Linked DNA regions of Homo sapiens: region 1 is linked to region 2. The links come from fine-mapping of genetic effects on gene expression. A gene starts in region 2. The other region holds a variant in brackets. All regions are shown on one strand. Distances are between the middles of the regions. Region 1 holds the start of GPR162 (G protein-coupled receptor 162). Region 2 holds the start of CD4 (CD4 molecule).

Region 1 (2,901 bases), 33 kb before region 2:
GCCCCAGGGATTTGGGGGTGGGGCTCAGCCCCCTGGACAGGCTGCAAGGGAAAGATGAGATGTGGGAGGGAGAGGGCAAAGGTAGGGCCTGGGCTGGTCTCCAATCAGCCTCCTGTGCCCCCTTTCTTGAAACTATAGGCATGACTGATTACTAAGGCCCTGAGGGTCATTCAGAACATTCCTTTGCCTTAACTCTGACAGCTAAACACCCCACACAGATGAGAGCCGCACTCTTCCAGACCTCTAGGGAAGAAGGTATTCCCACCTCCCTGTCTCCTTTAGCCCTTCCTCCTCCCGCTGGAACTCCCAGGTTCCTTCTTAGAACATCCCCTGCTCAGCACTACTCCACCCCTATCTTCAAGTCCCTAAATGTCTCTTCAGAACTACTGATGGGAGACACAAGACTGGTTTCCTCTTGAGGGTTCACAGTGAACTGGGATATGGCATCACAGCCTTCCTCCCCTACCTGCCGGTCTCCTGGATGCAGGGGTCTTGGTGCTTAGCCCCTACTTCCCCAAACCTGGGTGATCACCCTCCAGCTACCCATATCTGGGAAAATGGGAGAAAGGAGTCTGGGACCGAAGGGGGTGCTAGGGAACCTGAAGGCGGGGAAACCGCTGACATCAGAAGCATCCAGAAATGGAAAGAGGGGGAACTAGGGAGAAGGAGGAGAGTTTGAGCAGAAGAGAAAGAGGGGGCAAAGTGGTAGTATCTGAAAATAGCAGGAAAAGCTCAAACCCCCTGGAGAGGAGGCTTTGGAGGGAGGAGGGACTGGAGGAGGGAGGGAGGGAGGGAGCAGGGAATAGGAGGCTGAGAAGAAAAGCCAAATGTTCAATAAGGTGCTGACTCCCCGTGGGGAGACCTTGACTCTTCCTCCCTGGCCCAGAGCCTCAGTTTCCCTCTCATGGGAGGAAGGATGGTCCCAGTTTTAGTGCGTGATGCTGAGCTTCAGTGAGCCCTGGGAAGGGGGGTAAGGGAATCGGGTGAAACCCTGAACAGAGTGGGGCTGTAAGGAAGCACATAATGGCTTTAGGGTAAGTGGGGTAAAAATGGGGCACAGCAGTGAAAGGGTCTGTTTCCCATGGAAGCAGCTCAGACCCTTGCTTTCCCCAAGAGGTCCTGGTCCACCCCCACCCTTGGCTTCCCTCCGGAGCCCAGTACACCCTAGTTGCCATGGCAATGGCCAGCCAGAGGGAGGTGGAGGGACTTGGCCAAGAGCAGCCCCCAGTGTCCTCTCCTACAGCCCTGGACCCCTTCCCACCCACCTCCACCCAGGCCCAGCTGGTGGGCTCAGGATGAAAGAGATAGGGAGTCAGAGAGGGAAGGAGGCAGGAAAGATGTGAAGGACAGAGAGAGGGAGGTGAAGGACAGGGAGAGATCAGAGGAAGGTGGGAAGGGGGATCTGGGAGGTTCCCTGGCCGACGGGGTCCCTCGCCCTTTGGGGTGAAGGGGTAAGGTCAGGCGGCTCCTCCCTCCTGTCCCCCTCCAGGTTCTCCAGGGCAGAAACAGCAGGTGGCTGGGGAGGAGGGGCCGGCCTAGGGGAGAGGAGGCAGCTTGAGGGGGAAAGGGAGGCAACACAGGGGACGGGGCAGGCAGGGGTCGTCTTACCTCTCTCCGGCTGCGCCCAGCACTGCCATGGAGACCGCACTCCCGACGCGGCTCTCTCGGGCTCCC[G/CG]CTGCCTGCCGGCTCCAGCTCGCCCGCCCTCCTCCCTCCTTCCCTCTCTCCCTCCCTCCCTTCCCCCGGGCCTCCCTCCTCCCCCTCAGTCCCGGCCTCCCAGGCTCAGCCCACGGCTCACTCGGTCTCTGCCCCTCTCACTCTCCAGGACCCTCTCTCCCGGGGTCGTCCTGCCAGTGAGCCCAGGCCAGAGGGAAGGCAGGACAGCTTTGTGGGGGGCGGGGGGGGGCGGGAAACGAGTGCAGGGTGGGGAACTGGACGGTGGTGACTCGGGGAGGAGGGGCAAGGAAGGCGCTGAGAGGGAGGGCGGTGAGGAGGATGGCTGGGAACCGGCTTCATTGGTGAAATGGTTCATGTCCTGCCCCCACCCCTTCCCGTTTTCAACACGAACACAAGCTCCAAGAGGCAGCTGGTGTTGTTGGGGACTGAGGAGCTAGCTGTTCGGGGAGGAGGAAGCGTGTGTCACTGTGTGTATCTGTGTGAGGGCTGGGCCTTGGGTTTGGGAGTGAGGGGGCTTGTGGTGCACACTGGGGCTGCTTGTGGAGTTGGGGGTGGTTGTGCACAAGCTAAAAGGATGTGGGCGCATGCATGCACACAGACACACACACTCTGCCTCCTCCTCCTGGAACACAAACACATATGTTGGGGATACAATTTGCACACACATGTTACAGTTTCTCATAGTCCTTTTTCTCTGCCACACACATACACCAGGAGAGCTCACACAACCCTGAGTCTCTCCCCCACGGTATATCACACACATGTAATTACAGAGTCTCAGCCTCACACACACACAGGCCCACACAGAGCCCTGTGGGTTGTGGAGGTGGGTAGCCAGCCTCCACAGAATTTTTCCCTCTCCAGGGAAACTTCATCTCCTTCCTGGGGCACGCCCAGCAACCTCTCCTCTGGGTCCGACCCCAAAGACCAGAAGATTCCTGGTCCCCAGAGAAGGGGTCTCTCTCTCTCTCTCTCTCTCACACACACACACACACACACACACACACACACACACACACGAAGAGCATCTTTATAGTAAGTTTATTGTATTTTTATTTCAGCTCAGGGGAGCAGGGGTGGAGAGTGGGCACAAATGCAAAGTAAGCAAATGGGGAGCCCCAGCAGCAATAGGGGGGTCTTCCTGGAAGAGGCAGGCTTTAAAGACAGGAGGAGAAGGAAATAGGGAAAAGGAGTTGGGACTGAGGGAAGTGGTGAGGAAGGGTAGGA
Region 2 (2,901 bases):
TCACTCTCCCTCACACCCTGCCAGGCCCAGGAGGGGCTGCACATCCTTCTGTAACTCTCCCGGCCTCATGAGACCCCTACCACCAATTCTTTTCGAATCCGTTTCTTAAATGACATATTTATCTAAAGATATGTATCTGCAACTTTTAGGGCAATTCATACGCAAAAGCTCAGTTTCAACACTTTCTGAGAATTTTAGCTTTCCTATTTCATGAATCATTTTAAAGCTAACTAGAGTAGAAGTGCCTTTAGACATTGTTCAAAAATCTTAAAAGAGCAAAGAAGCAGACAAAAATTTAAAAATACACACAGAAACACAAAAGGTAGTTAAAAGAGACTATTACATAGATCATGCGACTTATGAAATGCTGCAAGTATGATATTTGGTGTCAATTTTTGGAGATTGTCCCGTTAAGGAAAATTGGTTTTGCAAGAATTTTCTCTAGACTAGATTCCACTTCTTTTGCTCTTTTTCTTGTTTTTATGTTTTTCCTCATCATTTCTTTTTTATAGGTTTCCTCCCACCTTATATTTATTTATTCTTTCTAATTTTTTCCCTCCCCTTCTTCACTCTTTTTCTCCTCTTTTCCCCTCTTCCAGTCTTCTCCCCTCAACTGCCCACGACTAGTTGCCTTCCACGCCTTTCCCAGCCTGGGATAGTCTCCAGTCTTCACTCCCTCTCTGATCTTGCTATTTAGGTCACTACTCCTCTAAGGAGCACCCATTGCTCTGGACACTGAGCTGTGCACGCTGGGGCTGCAGAGAGGAGTCTAGCACAGTCTCTGACCTCTGGAAGCTCACAGTTCCAGTGGGAAATCGCTGCTCATGACCAGTTCCAAGAGAAATGCAAGAGAAGGTGGCCAGAGCTGTGGGCAGACAACTGGGCAGAGCACATTCCTGTGCATCTGCCCCACGTTCCCCTCCCTCTCAGCTCCGGGGAAGGAAGCCGAGTCTGACCACCTTACCTCTGGGCTTGCGTCTTTCTTGCCCGCTGCTTCTCAAACAGGCGTATCTGTGTGAGGACTTGGAGCTCTGCAACCAGGAGCCCAGTGGGGAGGGTGCTTTGTTCCTTCTGCAGAGTCGTGCTTAAATGAAGAGAGACAGGAAGCCCGATGGCAAGGCTCCTCCACACCCTAGGCCTGGGCCGGCCCCAAACGTCACCAGCTGGAGCTGGGTTCCCCACCCCCCAGGCTCTCAGGGAACATGTCAAAGTGAAAATGCCAAAGTCAAGGGAAAAAGTTAAGCAGAATCAGGCTTAAATCAGGAGTCAAACTGTCACTGCCACTGTTAAGCGGCAAGAAAAAGATGGCAAGAAAGATTCCATTAGTGGTAGCGCCATGTCTGACCAGGCTGTGGGGAAAGAAGTGGGAGGCAGTTGGGGGCATATGGGAACAGCAGTGGTAAGCCCACAAACAGCTCCTTGCTCTGGGGCCCTGAGGGCATGTGTCCAGTGGGTGCCCCAGGGGTATCTGTGGAGGCTTTATAGGTGGCCCAGTGTGGAAGAGAGGGCGTGGGCTGAGCAGAGAATATCTGAGACACCAGGAGTGACTGTTAACCAGGCTCTGTTCCTCTAGGCGTCTCTGGCCAGGCCTCAGGTGCTTTCCTCTAGCCCGAATCTACCATGAACTCTCTATGTGAGTATCCGTCTGCCCATTGGACATCTCCACTGGGAAGCTCACCGGACATAGCAAACTCAACACACATCCCCAACTATGCATACCACCTGCATACTACCACCCTCCAAACCTGCTTCTCCAGGCTTCTCACTCAGTGAGGGGCTCACCATCCACCAACTTGCCCAAGCAAAATAAATTGGGTGTAATCTTTGACACCCCCTTCACCCAACTTCTCCCACGTATTTATTTACCAGTTCCTGTGGATGTTACCTTCTAAATGGCTCCAAAATCTACCCAAGTCACTCTGCACTACCACTACTGCCACCATGCCAATCCAAGATGCCAATATCATCCCTTGCTCGGACAACAGCTCCTGCCTCCTCACTGGTCGCCATTCTCCATACCACAGCCCAAGTGATCATTTAAAGATGCACATGTGAGTGTGCGTTTTCCAGTCTGAAAAAAGTGGGGCTGGGAGTGGTGGCTCATGCCTATAATCCCAGCATTTTAGGAGGCCGAGGTGGGGGGATCGCTTGAGCCCAGGAAGTTGAGGCTGCAGTGAACCGTGATTGCACCACTGCACTCTAGCCTGAGTGACAGAGTGAGAACCTGTCTTGAAAAGAAGAAAAGAAAAGAAAAGAAAAGAAAACTCTAGTTCAGCTTGCGACTCCAACAATTAACACAAGTACCCCTATTTGACAGCATTGTACTTCATCTGTAGCATATAGTACTGTGTGCTACTTCTCATTTCATGACACACCGTACTCAAGGGTTGAGATTTAATAAAATTAGTATTTACTGCTTCATTAAAGGCATTCTATATATATATATATATATATTTTTTTTTTTTTTTTTTTTTGAGAGGGAGTCTCACTCTGTTGCCCAGGCTAGAGTGCAGTGGCGTGATCTTGGCTCACTGCAACCTCTGCCTCCCGGGTTCAAGCAATTCTCCTGCCTCAGCCTCCCAAGTAGCTGGGGCTACAGGCATGCGCCACAATGCCCAGCTAATTTTTGTATCTTTAGTAGAGATGGGGTTTCACCATGTTGCCCAGGATGGTCTTGATCTCTCTTTTTTTTTTTTTTTTTTTTGAGACAGAGTCTTGCTTTGTCATCCAGGCTGAAGTGCAGCAGCATGATTTCGGCTTACTACAACCTCCGCCTCCTGGATTCAAGCCATTCTCCTGCCTCAGCCTCCCGAGTAGCTGGGATTACAGGCACCCGCCAACATGCCTGGCTAATTTTTGTATTTTTGTAGAGACAGGGTTTCACTCGTTGGCCAGGCTGGT

Evidence for each region.
Region 1: its variant is fine-mapped to the expression of CD4 in cerebellum (GTEx, PIP above 0.99).

The regions. Positions count from the first base shown.
Region 1 is chr12:6,820,608-6,823,508 of GRCh38, reverse strand. GPR162 (G protein-coupled receptor 162) reads right to left here and starts at 1,688. Exons shown (of 5, transcript NM_019858.2): 1 at 1,609-1,688; 2 at 1-41. It overlaps CD4 (CD4 molecule), which reads right to left. Exons shown (of 10, transcript NM_000616.5): 10 at 2,710-2,901. RefSeq lists an enhancer at 1,705-2,677. The variant G/CG (reference allele first, on the strand shown) is at 1,675.
Region 2 is chr12:6,787,726-6,790,626 of GRCh38, reverse strand. It overlaps CD4 (CD4 molecule), which reads right to left and starts at 1,099. Exons shown (of 10, transcript NM_000616.5): 1 at 965-1,099. RefSeq lists enhancers at 1,193-1,242, 1,058-1,615.